Regions from separate parts of the Homo sapiens genome. Here region 2 is linked to region 1. A link means that fine-mapping ties the variant in region 1 to the expression of a gene that starts in the linked region. Tissue or cell type: whole blood. Region 1 holds a variant in brackets; the other region holds the start of a gene. All regions are shown on one strand. Distances are from middle to middle.

Region 1 (8,247 bases):
GTATTTTACAGTTCTAAAATTTCTATTTGGTTGCTTTTTAAAAAATTATTCGCTGAGAATTTCAATTTTTTTATTTGCTTCAAGTGTGTTTGTAATGGCTAATTGAGGATGTTTATGATTGCCACTTAAAATCTGTTTCAGATAATTTCAACATCTGTGTCATCTCAGTGTTGGTATGTATCAGTTGTCTTTTCTCATTCAAGCTGAAATTTCCCTGGTTCTTGGTTTGACAAGTGCTCTTTTTATTGTCCTGGACACTGGAAGAATTATCTTATGAATCTCCAAATCTTATTTAAATCTTCTTTTTTAGCAGGCCTCCACTGACACCACACTGGTGGAGAAAGGGGCACATCACCTGGTTACTGCCAGGTCAAGGTGGCAGTCCAGAGATCCTGGCTTCCCACTAGGGCTTTGCTCACAGGAGAGGGGATTTTTTTTTTTAATTGTGGTGCTTGGTTTCTGTCTTTTTTAGAGTGAACCTTTCCTGTCCTTTGGCTAGAGGTAACAGGCTTTTTTCAGGGCTTTTTTGTGTGTGTCTGTCACAGTTGGCATTTCTGGCTTGCTGGCTTCTTTAGCACACAACATTCAGGATATAGAGGCAGCAAAAAGAAAACTCAGGGTCATAGTATTCCTCAGTTGCCAAGGTTCCTAGTCAGTTGGCCTTCTTCTCTCCACCCTTCAGACTCTTATCTTTGTTTTATACATAATATTCGGAGTTTTTAGTTATACTTTGTGGGAGGAATAAGAAGTGCATCTATTCCATCTTGTCAACTAGAAGTCAGCCCATCTGGCTGGGCGCGGTGGCTCACATCTGTAATCCTAGCACTTTGGGAGGCTGAGGCGGGCTGATCACCTGGGGTGAGGAGTTCGATACCAGCCTGGCCAACATGGTGAAACCCTGTCTCTACTAAAAATACACAAATTAGCTGGGCGTGGTGGTGCACGCCTGTAATCCCAGCTACTCGGGAGGCTGAGGCACGAGAATCGCTTGAACCCAGGAGGCAGAGATTGCAGTGAGCCGAGATCATTGCACTGCACTCCAGCCTGGGTGACAGAGCTAGACTCTGTCAAAAAAAAAAAAAAAAGTCGGCCCACCTGGAAATTGGTTTTTATTAAAGACTGAAATTTGACATGGTGGCTCTTTATGTAAGTAACCTGTTGTGGAGGCTAAAGTAACTCCATCTTGGATGCTAATCCACTATGTTGACTTGTGATTAACCCTGGTTCCAGGAATGCCTCTGAGATTTCCAGTTCATCTATTGTTCCTTGTGTTAAGAGCACATCCTTACCATAAATCCTGCCCTTAGATCAAACTCCTACTCATTCCCTCTGAAACACGTGTACCTTTTCCTGTGGTTTATAATCCCTGGGTCTGGGGGTGGGGGGTAATGGTGTGGAGATCTATCTGCCTTGCAGCTGCTCAAGACCATACTTCTGTCCATAAGTTCCCCGATAAAATCACCCTGTGATGACAAGCTGGACTTATCTGCCTCCTTCTTTGGTTTCTCAGCCCCTTCTGCATTTGGGGGTCACTTTGCTTATATAGCCCTTTCATGAAACATGTGTACTAGCAAAATACTAAAGATTTATAGAAAGGGGTTGGGCACAGTGGCTCATGCCAGTAATCCTAGCACTTTGGGAGGCCAAGATGGGTGGATCACTTGAGGTCAGGAGTTCGAGACCAGCCTGGCCAACACGGTGAAACCCCGTCTCTACTAAAAATACAAAAAATTAGCCAGGTGTGGTGCTGCACACCTGTAGTCACAGCTACTCAGGAGGCTGAGGCAGGAGAATTGCTGGAACTCAGGAGGTGGAGGCTGCAGTGAGCTTAGATCATGCCACTGTACTCCAGCCTGGGCAACAGAGTGAGACTCTGTCTCAAAAAAAAAAAAAAAAATTATAGAAAGGCCTCAAAGCATTTCTGAAATTAGCTTTTCCTTAATGCTTAGTGTGAATCTTTATTGCACATTTTAAATCATCTTGAAACTGCCTTTCCCAAACTTTGCATCAGTGGTTCTATTAAGCTGATGGACAGTTTCACTCCATTAGAAAATGTCAAATTTGGTACACATCCAGGATCAGAGGAAGGATCACAGGAGAGCAAGAAACTGGTGACAGGACTAGTTCAGACACACTAGAGTCAGCCCACTTTCCACTGCTCACATAGAGTGACACAAGCAATGTGTTTAAATGAAAGAAGAAAAAAGTTCAGGTGCCACAAAGATAGAAAGCTGGACTCACTGCCTATCTACAGCCTCAGTTTTATAGAATCGTCAGTTGCTGTTGGCGTTTTGCACATATGAACTGGTACATAAGTGAAGAATGGATGGGTACGTGGTTGGTGCCTAAAGGTACGGTTTCAATCCCAGTTCCTCCTACACACTACCCAGAAGGTCCCAGAAAGCCCTGTTCTCCTCAGCAGGCGCTCCACAACAGCAGCTGCAGAAAGCGCAGCCATGCTAACAGAGGCGCCCCCGGAGTTTTCCCATCTTCACCCTCACCCAACACCTCTTGGGTCATTTTCTCCTGGTCTGTCTTCACAAGCCAGAAATGGTTGATACTGATTCGGTATGGGTTTGGAAGATTATAGGTTTCTGATTTAAAAGGCCTTATGTCATCAGGGTCCAACAGACTTTCTTTCTGGGGATTTCTGTGTTCTGAAGTTCAGACGTCCTTTGTTCCTTCCCTTCTAGGTCAGTCACCACGAACAGGGGCACTCGGCATGCTGCCCCAGCACTGGAGAAGCAGCGCTGTGGGGGCAATCTGTCACACTCTCAGAGTCTGGGACTTGACTTGCTACCAACAACTGCTGTGCAATTCTGCTGAGCAGGAATATCATGAGCTGTTCAATAATGACGGACGCATTGGTTGAGATGAAGTTTCCAGTAAGGAAGTGACAGTGCAATGTGGATATTTATGGCTGTAAAATAGGAAGAGCTTTAGTTCCCAGGCTGAACCTGCCACTGCTGGAGCCATTTCAACAAGGCATCCTCACAACAAAGAAGAGATGTGATTTGGTACCATTTCACACCAGCAGGTGTCTGGACGAAAACATCAATGTGAATAAGGGCCAAGTGCAGTCCTGTCTTGATTAAATTACTTAATAATATTATTAAATAATAATAGGTCTGGGCAGTATTGTTTTTAACCTGACTCATCCAGCTGTCCTTCAAATAGCTCCGTCTCCCTCTACCCAGAACTGATTTTTAAAAAGAAGTAATTTTTCTCCCTGGGCTGGGAAAACCCTAATGAACTGAAACACACTTTTACTTTAAAATTTTTCTGTCTGGCGTTTTTGTAATCATACTATTAAATGACTCTGGAGTCATGTTAATGACAGGATTTGTTTTGTTTGGATGCAGTTCAATTGCATGGTTTGGGTAAAAGCTAGCCTACATACAAAGGAATATGAAGACTGTGGAAGAAACTGTATATTGGGTTTAAGAATTTCAGCAATTATCCGGTAAAAGAAGAACTTAAGCATTAAGCTGCAATGTCAAATCCACTTGCTTCAGTCTTACTAGCTGATGTTGCCAACAGTTGGTGATGCCTTTTTCAGGGTTCTACATTCAAAGCCTGTTAAAGATGGTTACAGGCAAGGAGGAGTCACAGGCAGAGGCTAAAGTATATCTATCATCTTTTAACCCTAATGCACATTTTAGAAAGTCTCAAAAATCTGTTGCTGTGATTTTTACATCTTGTGTTTTTTGAGACAGAGTCTCGCTCTGTCACCCAGGCTGGAGTGCAGTGGCACGATCTTGGCTCACTGCAACAACTTCCACTTCCTGGGTTCAAGTGATTCTCCTGCCTCAGCCTCCTGAGTAGCTGCGACTACAGGTGCATGCCACCATGCCTGGCTAATTTTTGTATTTTTAGTAGAGACGGGGTTTCACCATGTTGGCCTGGCTGGTCCTGAACTCTTGACCTCAGGTGATCCACCCACCTTGGCCTTGGCCTCCCAAAATGCTGGGATTACAGGTGTGAGCCACTGTGCCCAGCCCTATTTTAAAACTGAATTTCTTCAAGCATCTAAATCAGAGGCTGGCAGAAACTTTTTCTGTTAAGGCCCAGATAGTAAATAGCTGTTTACTTTTTATGGGCCATATGATCTCTGTTGCAAC[G/T]CCTCAGCTTTGTCATTGTAGCAGGAAAGCAGCCACAGACAGTAAGCAAATGAATGAGCCTAGTCATGCCAATAAAACTTTATTTACAAAAAAAGGCAGTGGGCTGGACTTGGTTCAGGAGCCAGCTGTAGTTTGCCAACCCCAGGCCTAAAGAAAGCTGGAGAGGAATAGCTTACACCCAGAAAAGAACCTCTCAGTGAGGGAAACAGACTAAGAATAGTATCACACTACAGCCTTCTACCAACAGATGATACTTTACTTTAAAATACAAAACAAAATTAGCTCAGCCAGTTAGTTGTTTTATTTTGAGTTTTGTTTTTTTAAAAAAAGAAAAGCTTTGAGAAAATGTGTTAAATATCAGTAAAGGGCAGGAACACACATGGCTAGCTTTACAATAGCAATCTAAACATACACAAAGGCAAACATTGAGTAAAATGCTAGGGAAAGACGGCACTTTGGGGGCCTACTGCAGTTTTCCTTATTGCACATAAAGGTTGTGGATAACGCCAAGTCTTTAATTTTTCACAGTTATACTTTAATGTCATTTTATATAACGTTTATTTATATAACATACTATAATGTTAATTTTATAAAACCACCAGTTTGCTACTGTTGAATGGAAATAGAAGACAAAATTCTCCCCAATTACACTATGTAAGCTCTCTATAAAAAGTTCCCTAGAAGGTCACATCATTCCATGTTAAATTCGTCCTATTCTATTTTAAAAGTTGCTTTTCAGCTATTAAATGAATCTTTATGGCCTTCTCATTTAACCATTTTCATGGACATAGTACAACTTTCCAAGTAAAAAGTACCAGATGTATTTTATGTGAAAAACAAAAGGACAACTTAGGAGGAGCTGGCCCTACTATGAAGTCACACTTTGAACGATCAATTTCAGTGGTAAATTCCCAATCCATAGACTTAACACCCACACAACTGAAAATCATCCCTCTGCTTCTCCAAAGCCCACAATTGGAATAATCACAACACAAGTCAGCCCCTAAATGTCCATGCAGTTAAGTCATCCAGTAACACCTGAATTGTAGCCTTTTTTAAGTGCTTGAGACAGCAGATGTTGAGGTTTCCATGCTGTTTACAAGTCCTTTTCTATCTGAGTTCCTCCAACATATACAGGCCCAGACAATTTTCCACTGGCCAAGAGCTGACTGTGACACTTGGTGATTCTGTTAAGCCTTTTGAAAGGTGGTCATCAGAAGGAGAAGGTGACTTCTGCTGTGTGCGCTCCTGTCTGCTTTGGACCTTTTCAAAGGGCAGCACAGCAGGCAGCCCTTCCTTCTCATCTTCTCCAAGGCTCAGGTAGCAGAAAACCGGCTGCCTGTGTGTTCCATATGGGCCACGACTATAGTATACCCTGCTTACAAAAATAAGACTAACATCAAAAACTTTGGTTTTGCTCTTTACAATTTTTGCTAGCACTGGGTGACAAGATGTGTTTAATTTTTTAAAAATGTCTATGAAAATTGACACTGGAAAAAACTGTTTATCTCTAGGTCTTGTTTTGAAAGGATTGTTGATGAGTCTACTTGCTTTTCCTAGTTAAGACACTAGCAATGGTTTCTACAGTATTTCTCTATATGTTGTTTTCAGGTTTTAGAAAGGGGGATGATCTTTTCAGGTATCAAAGTGGTAAAAGCAGTATTCAGATGGGTTGTTTCTAAACTACAACTCTTGGCCACTAGATTCCTTTGACTTACTGTATCAGAATGTAGCAGCCGACACTGGCAATCCAGAGTGTCAGTTAAAGAACAACAGAATAGCTCAGAACTCAATGATACCAGTCTAATGTATATGAAAGACTTGTTCCTGAACTAATTAATCTATAGAATCAACATCAAAAGGCAGACAAGAAACTTGTCAAGTTCCCCACTTTTGAAGTGGAATAAGAAGTCATATACTTGTGAGATCAGCAGGCTGACTTTCTAGCAGCCCTCATTGCAGATAATCTTTCACAACAGATGGTAAAATCAGCTTTCTGATACACTCTTAGAACTCACAACGGGTGCACAGTAGGTTTCCAAGTGGGTGATTTTCACCTCTGATGAGATGCTCTAACACCCTGCCACTGTTTTTCCCCCTAAGTGCATCAGTGGTGTTTCTACATTTGGAAATTACTTGTTCACATTAAACATCTGGTATGATTACATTAACTTCTACTGCAGACAAGGACAGGGAGAGATAGGATGATGGGATGACGTCAAACAGACCAACAGACCTCTATTTTGGAAGGAACTGTTAGTTCTTTGTCCTAGACCGAATCGTTCATGGATAGCTGAGATACCCTTTTGCATGTTTTCTAAAGAGATTCCATTTGTCAGCCAAACCACAGAGGACATTTTCGGGTCTAGAGAACACAGCCTGAAGAGATCCTTGCTGTTTGCTTGATGAAACATTTGATGTCGCAGTGTGATTTCTGCCTTCCAGGCATCAATGCTTATTTGTCTGATCACCCCAGTAACCACCCTGGATGCTCGGATCCATATGCCCTTCCTGTGATTGTGTCCTAGGAAGAAATGTGGCCTTATTTAAATTCCAAATTTTCTTCCCTAGGAGAGAAAGTTCAGGTTTCTGGTAGTTCTCAAAAAGTGTACTAAAAGGAATAGCAGCTTTCATCTTCTCTCTGTCAGGGCTATACAAAAGTGTGCATCTCCTTAATTACCTGCTACGGAAACCACCACCATCACCATGTGATAGCAAAGGACCACAACCTTCTACTTTGCTCCAGCAGTAAATGGGCCCACCCTTATTCTGAGGAATCCAGTGTGGACTCAGGCATGAGGATAGGTGAAGGAAAAGAAAATCTGACTCCAGAGGGGACTATTAATTTAATTCCAGGTGAAATTAAAAAAAAAAAACAAAACAGCTTCCCAGAAACCTTCATGCTTGATTAGTTAGCAGCTCAGTTAAGACAATACCTTCCCTTTATTCCCCACAAGTGGGAACCAAGATGACAGGTTTTTAGTTCTCCCCATACATACCCCAAGTCACCCTTCTCTTTCCTCGAAGGCTCCAAGGTTTTCGTGATCTTTTCAGCTGTACTTTATGGAGTATGTTCTTGAGTTCTGCAAAGATTAGCATCAAACTCTCTCACAGCTGCCCTGTCTGTATTACTGATCAATACTCAGTTCGTTTCACATGACTAACAATTTAAAAAAACACCTTCATCTGCTGGGCCATTCTTTAAAATCAGATTCCAAATAGTCTAGAGGTCTGCTGCGAGCTCTAGACTAAAGGCTCTTGTCAATCCTGGCTGCACATCAAGAACACTCCTGAGGTTCCAAACAAAGCATGGATTCCAGGTCCCACCTGAAGCTACTGAATCTGAATCTCTGAGGGGAGGGCCCTTGCACTGATTTAAAAACAAAAACTGGCCAGATGATCCTAATTCACAGCCAGGGTTGAGAACCTCTGCTCTAGAACATCGGACTCGGCTGAACTGTCGTCCCCACCAACCCAGAACAAATACGTGTATAAGATGGACTTGGGTTTACTCTCTTGGAAGAACTTTGTTTATTTGGATGTACCATTACTTAGCAGTTTCAATCTGATCTTATGCCAGACTGGCAGCAGATAGTTGGCCTTGTGTTGAATGATGCCTGACATGGCATAGGCAAAATTCTTCTAGATGTGGAACCACTTGACGAATGGATTCACATTCCCAGGACCCCTGGTAAGGTCAGGGTTATTCTCCACATCTTACAAACAAAAATTAGGACCAAAGGTCAAAAATTAGGACCAAAGTGCCTTACTTTGATTCACCAAATATTTGTAATCAAATAAGGACTTAGAACACTGGAAAGCAGTTCTGATTCCAAATGGCTGACAGCTCGGGGTTAGTGACAAAGGCAAGAAAGGGAGACCAGCCTGCATTTCCAGCTTCCTAACACACAAAGAAAGGCCGGGGTAGGGTTACTGGGCAAATGCTGCAACTAGATTCTGGGCCCTCTCTTCCCTGGGTAGGACTTCTGGGTGGGCCTCCTGCCCTATACAAACCATCCCCAACCCACCTTGTTTACATTGGAACTACACTGTCGTAGACAGCAATTCAGGGAAGAGGACAAGCCATAATTAGGATTTCCTCCCTGTTTCCCCTGTCATCTCCACA
Region 2 (8,247 bases), 160 kb after region 1:
GGGCCCAGTAACTTTAGGATGGCACTTAATCACATAACAGAGACAGACAGCTGGGAGCTCCCTGGCCTGACAAAACAGGTTAGACTGGTGGCAGGCAAGTGCCTGGCCCCGCTGCCTTGCAGCTCCAGTGGTGGGGTCTGGGGGCTGCTTTCAACCTTCCTGGGGAGTTAGGTCTGTAGCTACCTTCCCTTGTAGCTGCCCTGGCCTGTCAGGGAGGAATGCTTATAAGTGTCCTTTGGTGGGTGGGGGAGTTCCTTTCTGTTTAAACGTTAAGCATTCACAGTGTGTCTTTTATTTTCCTTAGGTCCTCTGCATCCAAGCAAGCACTTATTATGGGGTCTATTTGTGCACATCACTGCTAATGTAACATTGACTACTCTCTGAGGATAATGGAATAAAGGGAAGGAAAAAGAGGGAGAGAGCGAGTGGGAAAGAGAGGGTGAGAGAGGGAGGGAGGGAGGGAGAGAGAGAGAGAAATCTCTTCCCCTTTCCCCATTTTATCTCCATCCCAGACACAGGGCTCAGAAAAGCTCCAAGGGCACAATTAAGAATTGAAAAGTCATGAAGAAAATTGATAACATAATGTGATTTAAATAGGGAGAAGTAGGCGTCAAATTGAGTGATTTGAGGAGCACGTTAAAATGCTATTACAGCCGGGTGCGGTGGCTCACACCTGTAATCCCAGCACTTTGGGAGGCTGAGGTGGGTGGAGGTCAGGAGTTCAAGACCAGCCTGGCCAAGATGGTGAAACCCAATCTCTACTAAAAATACAAAATTTAGCCGGGCATGGTGGCGGGCGCCTGTAATCCCAGCTACTCAGGAGGCTGAGATGAAGAATTGCTTGAATCCGGGAGGTGGAGTTTGCAGTGAGCCGAGATTGCGCTACTGCATTCAAGCCTGGGCGACAGAGTGAGACTCCGTCTTGGAAAAAAAAAAAAAAAAAAGCTATTACAAGACCAAGAAGCATACAAGGTTATATGGTGACCTCTCCCTCCCACTCCTATTTCACAGCCATCTAGTTCCTCTCCCCCAAGGAAACCAATGTTACTCATCTATTGCATGTCCTTCCAGAGATATTTTACGACTATACCAACAAATATATAAATTTATATATATATAAATTTATCTTAAATGTAAACGCTGTTCTTCTCAGATTAAAGTGTCACTTAAACACAAAAAGGTGGCAGAAATTACATTTTAAAACTTTTTCTCAAAATAAAGAGTTTTGAAATTCACAGTTGAACTCTTTCATTCATAAACATTTAAAAGTTAAATTGTTTGCCTCCAGAAATTAAGTTGGGTTCCCAGCACACAGTGGATACTTTAAAAATGTTTCCTTAGGTCTTTTTGTCGTTCCTTATTCAGAGCCAAGAGGACAATTACTCACTTCCTCTATTGATATAGAGAAATCAAATTTTATTTTTTACTATTAAAAAAGAGAAGTCTTGAAAAATCTTTACTGGATTTACTTGTGTTCAAAGATTTGCTTGACAGTAGTAATCATTTCATTGTGTTTATCAAAACATCATGTTGTACATCTTAAATGCAGACAATTTTTTAAAAGATTTGCAAACTGAATTTTAAGATCAGTTTAAAATCCCCATCCCAATAGTCTTCAGTATACTATGAATAATTAGCTAATCACATGACATTAGAATTCAGATTAGGGGGACCTTGCAGTAGAAGACCAAACATACCTGAGAGAAAGAAGAAATGTTTTCTCACAATTACAGACAGTCCTTAAAATATTAATATTTGGCATAACCTGAGACATCACATATTGACAAACTAAATTTCTTTATACATTTAAAGAAACACTAATACTCAAAGATATAGAACAAAATTACACAGGAATGCTGAGATGATATTGCCTTTTCTGAACAGCCATCAGTTACACTAGATTTGTAACTTGATTGTTCACAAAATAAAACAGTACACTGTAGCACAACCAAATGGCTGAAAGATGGAGGTGAGTTTTAAAAGTACGTATCAGCAAAGGAAAATTCCACTGTTGTCTTTAAGCCTTAAGATAAAGGTGATTGAACTCCTCAGAACACGGAGTACTCTCCAGAAAATATATTTTCAAATCCCCATTTATTTTCCATCCCTTGAGCATGTGTTTACGAATCTGACAAATCTACCTCCTATTTCACATTGTCCTTTAAGAAACTGGGTCTAGGGCCTATTAAATAAAAATATTTTCACGGTTATCTATATAAAGGCAATTTTCATTTGCATCATGGCTTGGAGTCAATCACCTGCAATGACCACGTGCTTCAATTCCCCCCTGTCTGTCTTCTCAGGAAACCTCCCAGCTTACCTGCAGGCCTGGCATCAGTCATTTATCACCAACTGACACAAACCACAGAGCTCAACAACGGTCAGGGATGGAGGCCAAAGTCTGTGTTGAGACCTATAATTCGCAATCACCAAACTCGGTTTTAGACCTGGTCCTGTTTCAAGATCTGTGTAGGTCACTACTTCATCAAAACTGGAGGGCTCTTAACAGCGCTTGCCCCTTACACGGTTTGGCTGCGAGGGCCTGGTGGCCATGAGCCCCGGCTGTCAACAACTAATCAAGAAACATGAGAAGCAAGGCCCAGAACCAAGGGTAATTTTCACATTAAAGGTTAAGGTTTCTGCTTTCCATTCTCTATCAGGGCACCTGGATGGAAACTGAATAAAGAAATCCCTCAGTATATGTGATAAAATAAAATTTTCCCCGTTGGGAACAATCATGAAGTGGCTCGTCTATTTCGTGTGAGGATGCCAATTCAGGGGCTTTAACACCACTGAATTACATTCAAAAAGAGAATACCTGACTCCACTTTGGAGTCATGGGCAGGGCGAGGGGGGAGGCAGGGGGCACAGAAGAGGAAGAGGGATGACTCAGATTATGGCTGACATCCATGTAATAAAGGGAGATTTGTACTGACCACTGTGCATGTAACACACTGTGTACCATTAAATCTAGAAAAGGATGGTAGCATCAGCCCACCCCTAACAACAAAAGATGGCTGACTCCGGAATTAAAACCACGACTTTTCCCCTTCATACATTCGGAAATGTATCTCAAACTCACTCCCTGTTACCGTCTTAGGAATACAAAAGCTCCTCTTCGTTTGAGAAAGCAAGTAACTGGGTATAACTTTCCACTCGGGACATAAGAGCAGGAGGCGTGCCTGTCTCCTCGTCCAGGCCTGACATGGTGGTGCCACCCACTCTGGGTCCTGGACCACTGCTCACCTTTCACCACACTTCATGCTCTGACTTTATCATTAAGAGACCTGGGAATGTGGACCTCAGGAGTGGGTACCCACCCAGGCTGACCATGGATGTGGCGTCCAAGAGGCCCCACTAACCCATACCCAAGCAAAGACACTTTCAGACTTCGTCCCCACTCCCTACTGTGGCCTGTCCCCTGAGGTGATGCAGTCACCTGGGAAGCCACCCACCTCCAGCCACCACGCAGGCACACACACCCTATCGAGCTCAACTGGAGCGGGAGGTGGTGGGTAAGAGGTTTGCAACAGAGACCGAACGGGGCAGACGGAACCGGACCACCTCTGTCCCTTTCATTTTCCTGGGTTCCCAATGCAGAAACGTGGAATAGGGGTGGAATTGTTTTTAACGGTAGCAGAGAGCCAGAAAATGCAGACAGTTGACCTTGGGAACCAACACCGTCGCAGCGGGAAACGTAAAAGAAACGGAACACGTTGGCAAGTGAAGGGGGAGCACCGCGCGGCGCCAGGAGGAGCGCGGCGGCCGAGGGGTGTGGAGGGCGGGGGGTGTAACAGGGGTGCTCACCATAGATCATGGCCAGCCCGGTCTCGTGCAGAAAGCGCACCCGGCGGTGCTTGAAGAGCCAGATGGTGAGGATGGTGAGCGTGAGCAGCAGGATGAAGGTGAGCAGGCTCACGCTGTCTTGCCGGTGGCTCTCCTCCGCCTCCTTCTCAGTAGCGAGCTCCTCCATGGCGCTGCTGTCCTCCGCCGCCGCCCCAGAGGAGGAGGCCGAGGCCGCGGCCGCGACTCGCAGCCCCCAACCCAGCAGCAGCGGCAGCAGCAGCAGCCGCGGCGGCGGCGCCCCGGTAGCCCGACCCGAGCCAGGGCGCGCCGCGTCACCAGGCTCCATGGTCCCGGGGCCCCCCGCGCCTCCTCCGAGCGGGGACCAGCAGCCCGCGCCGTCGGCGGGTTCTGGCAGCACCGCGGACCTGCCGGAGTGGCCGTGGCCGCTGCAGCTCCTCCTCCTACTCGCGCCGGGCCGGGGCTGCGCCCGGGGCCGCGCGGGGGAGGGGCGCGCGCAGTGCGCAGGATCCCCAAGCACCGCCCCCCGCCCGCGCACCTGTTCGTCCCCCGGCCGCGCCACGCCGCACCGCCCCGCGGGCCAACCGAGCCACCCAGGCGGGGCCGGGTGTTGCCCTCGGGTCTGCGGGCCGGCCGCCGGCTGCTTGCCTCTCTGCGCTTCTCACCCCGTCCTGGCGCACCTGCCCAGGCAGTCTGGGGTCGTGGGGCCAGTTCATGGGCAGCCGCCGCCGCACTTCCGAAAGGGGACGCCAGAGGTCGCCGGCGCCTAGCGGGAGCATCGGCTTGGAGTGACTAGCCTTGCGGTCTCGAGTCCCGTCTCTGGCGCCACGGCGAAGTGTTTAATCTCAGGCCAGTGTGCAGCCGCCCTGGGCCCAGTAAAGTGGGGGCTGTCAGTGAACCGAGCAGCCCCGAAGCCACGTTAGCCCCTACACCTCTCTTTCCTCATCTCTCAGGTTGCCCTTCCAGCCCCAGAATCTGCTAGGTTTCATTCAAACCTCTGTTCTCATCAGACTCAAATGTGAGGACTGATAAGGAGTTGGAATCGGGGGAGGGCATTGAAGTATCTCCTTCCTCACTTGAGGGAATAGACTTCGTCTGCGCTGTGCTACTAATCCCCTTGGGGAATAGGGTTGAACCAGAAGGAACTGAACGCTTGCCATTCCTGGTAGATGAGCAGTAGCTGGTCCTAAGGTGGTGGTGGGGGGTGGGGGTTACCCTGATGACCCTTTCTTTTATGTTGCTCACCTGGTAGCTCAGAGAGTCTTTTAATGACTCTTAAGACCAAACCCAGCTCTGAACAAAATTATGGCGTGGACTCTGAAGGATGAAGCCTCTTGGAACAAATTCTCAGGAAAACTAGAATCTTCAATCCACCTTGCTCCTCTGGTCAAGGAAGAAACAAGATCAGATTAATCACTGAGTTCCCAGTGCTTAGCACTGTACTCATGTGTTTATTGAACCACTCTGAAATCTCTACCAAAACTGCCCATGTTTTCGCTCCCAGGGGAGTTTGCATTTTTAAGAGGATTCATTGAAGAAGGTGATGCTTAACCAAATGAAATAATAGGGTAGAGGTAGCATTAGGTAAGAAAACTCTTTGGAGTACTGCAGCCTTCCTGGTTCCCCTGTAGGTGAGCACTCTGCCAAAGCTGTTTAGTGGTTTCTTTAAAGCAGGGAAATCTCTTCATCTACATTTTAGCTAGCCCCTTTCCCAACTCCTCTAGGCAGTCACTCAGCCCCTGCAAACATCCGTATACCTTGAAGTTCCACACAGGTTTCCAATAAAATTGCAAATACTTAAAACCTGGATGGGCACTGTGTTGGTCATAATATTATGCCCCTTTGGGTGCCCAGTACTCAAGGACAGAATTTCTCTCTTTAGAAAAGGGCAACTCAGGAGCTACCTTAAAAGTACAGACTTCTTAGTATTTGTGGCGGATTGTATTTTTTAAAAAGATGGCCACAATCATATTTCCAATCCCAGAACCTTACCATCCCCCATCAAGAAGGGGCATCTATGTTCCCTCCCCTTGAACCTCAGTGGACCTTTGTGACTCCCTCAAAGAATATAATGTGGTAATGGAGATTATGTGATTTGTGAGGCTAGGTCATAAAAGGTAATCTAGCTCCTGCCTGTTTCATTCTGTCACTTTCCACTCTAGCTAGGCTGGGCACGGTGGCTCACGCCTGTAATCCCAGCACTTTGGGAGGCCAAGGCGGGCGGATCACCTGAGGTCAGGAGTTCAAGACCAGCCTGACCAACATGGCAAAACCCTGTCTCCACTAAAAATACAAAAATTAGCCGGGTGTGGTGGTGTGTGCCTGTAATCCCAGCTACTTGGGAGGTGGTGGCACGAGAATCACTTGAACCTGGGAGGCAGAGGTTGCAGTGAGCCAAGATTGCACCACTGCACTCCAGCCTGAGTGACAGAGTGAGACCCTGCCTCCAAAAACAAAAAAACAAACAAACAGACAAAGAAATCTAGCTACCTGGAAGCTGACATACTGAAGAAACCATGTAGAGAGACCATGTAGCAATAGAGGTAGATGCCACAGGAGACCCAACTTTTTGAGTGTTCCCAGCCCAAATGCCACACATGTGAATGAATGAGTCTTCAAATCAATTCATTCCCAGCCACCATCTTACTGTAGACATATGAGAGGCCCCAAGCAAGAACCATGTCGCTGAACCTAACCAACATCTGCAACTGTAGCATAATAAAATGATTGGTGTTATTTTAAGCTACTAAGTTTGAGGGTGGTTTCTTCCACAGCAATAGATAACCAGAAGAGTATTTATTATGTAAAGTAGTTCCCTTGGGTAGAGTATGAAAAGACTAGTCCCAACCATTCACAAATACACACCAAAGAAAACACTCCATTATCTCTACATATTTATGTGTGAAAACTAACCTATATAATACAGGAGTTCTGATTTCAGTTAACACAGAATAATCACACTAAACCCATTACCTGCTACTGAATACAGCTATAAAATGTGAACAGAATGCATGCAGCAACTATTTGAGGACTCTGGAAAGTAAATTGTACCACATAAACTGAGGAAAAACAACAGAATTTGAAGTAAAACTGAACTGGCGGTGAGTTTACCATTTTTTTCCTCCAGTCTCCACTAGACTGGACTCAAGGCAGCTTAACACCCGGAAGGGAGCATCAACATGGACAGAGAGAGCTCCAGGAAAAGCAGAAAATTGGTCTCCTAATATTCAGAGAAAGTAGGAGAAATGTGCCATTTTTTTTCTTTTCTCCATTCTCTTACATTTTAGCCAATAAGCAATCCCACTGTGGCACCTCAGTCAACAGTGACAATGGAGACAGCAATACCTTCAAGCACCCAAAAAATGCTAAGGGAGGGGAGAACCTTCCTCTCTGTTTGAAGTAGCTCTGGTCCCAAGACAGTGGGGCCAAAACCTCAATGATATATATTTTTTCACTCTCTCTGTCCTGATGCTTGGCCCAAGACATGGGCAAAGTTTCAGGAAATACATAACAGAGAGGATTAAATAAAGACCCAGATTTCTGGACAGGCACAGTGGCTCACCCCTGTAATCCCAACATTTTGGGAGGCTGAGGTGAGTGGATTTGTTGAGGCCAGGAGTTGGAGAACAGCCTGGGCAATGTAGCAAGACCCTGTCTCTATGAAACATTTAAAAATAAAATTAGCTGGGCACTGTAGTGCTTGCCTGTAGTCTTGGCTACTCAAGAGGCTAAGGTGGGAGGCTCACTTGAGCTCAGGAGTTCGAGGCTACAGTGAGCTATGATCACACCACTGTACTCCAGCCTGGGCGACAGAGCGAGACCCTGTCTTTAAATAAATTAAATAGTCTAGATTTCTTGCCAATTGATTAAAAGGGGAACTCCAAGGCATTACAAAGTACCAAGGAGACAGTAGAGAGGAGAGGACCTTGGGAAAGGTCCTCATAAAGTTTTTATGAACTCCTAGGTTCACCCCAACCTGCACATGGATCTGATCCTAAACAGCATACCAAAGACTGTGATAACTGAACTAAGAGGCAGACCACCACCCAAGCCCTAGACTAGCCACTGGATAAAACACATGTAGGACAGATCTGAATAGCATTACAAACTTTTGAAAACTGAATTGACTTTGGAGCCACTATCCACAAAAGGCATGTCAGAACTTGTGATCTAAACCCAAGCATGTCTATTACAAACTAAAACAAAAATATGAATATTTCCCCATAGTATTAAAACAAGATACAAAGTCCTATAACATAATATTCAAAATGTCCAGGATACAACCCAAAATTATTCAATACCTGAAGAACCATGAAAATCTTAACTTGGGTGGGAAAAGGCAAACAACAGACACCACTGCTGAGGTGACACCAATGTTGGAATTATCTGAAAAAGACTTTAAAGCAGCTATTATAATGATGCTCCAACAAGTAAGGACAAATA

The links. PIP is the estimated chance that this variant, and not a neighbour inherited with it, causes the effect.
Region 2: SLC9A7 starts here. The variant in region 1 is fine-mapped to the expression of SLC9A7 in whole blood (TOPMed, PIP 0.91).

Annotation. Positions count from the first base shown.
Region 1 is chrX:46,595,067-46,603,313 of GRCh38, forward strand. CHST7 (carbohydrate sulfotransferase 7) reads left to right here. Exons shown (of 2, transcript NM_019886.4): 2 at 2,694-3,430. It overlaps SLC9A7 (solute carrier family 9 member A7), which reads right to left. Exons shown (of 17, transcript NM_001257291.2): 17 at 4,185-8,247. Among named protein-coding and RNA genes, the nearest start is that of CHST7, 25 kb to the left of the region's middle. The variant G/T (reference allele first, on the strand shown) is at 4,122.
Region 2 is chrX:46,754,898-46,763,144 of GRCh38, forward strand. SLC9A7 (solute carrier family 9 member A7) reads right to left here and starts at 4,221. Exons shown (of 17, transcript NM_001257291.2): 1 at 3,808-4,221. The coding sequence starts at 4,132. RefSeq lists silencers at 3,993-4,132, 4,153-4,502.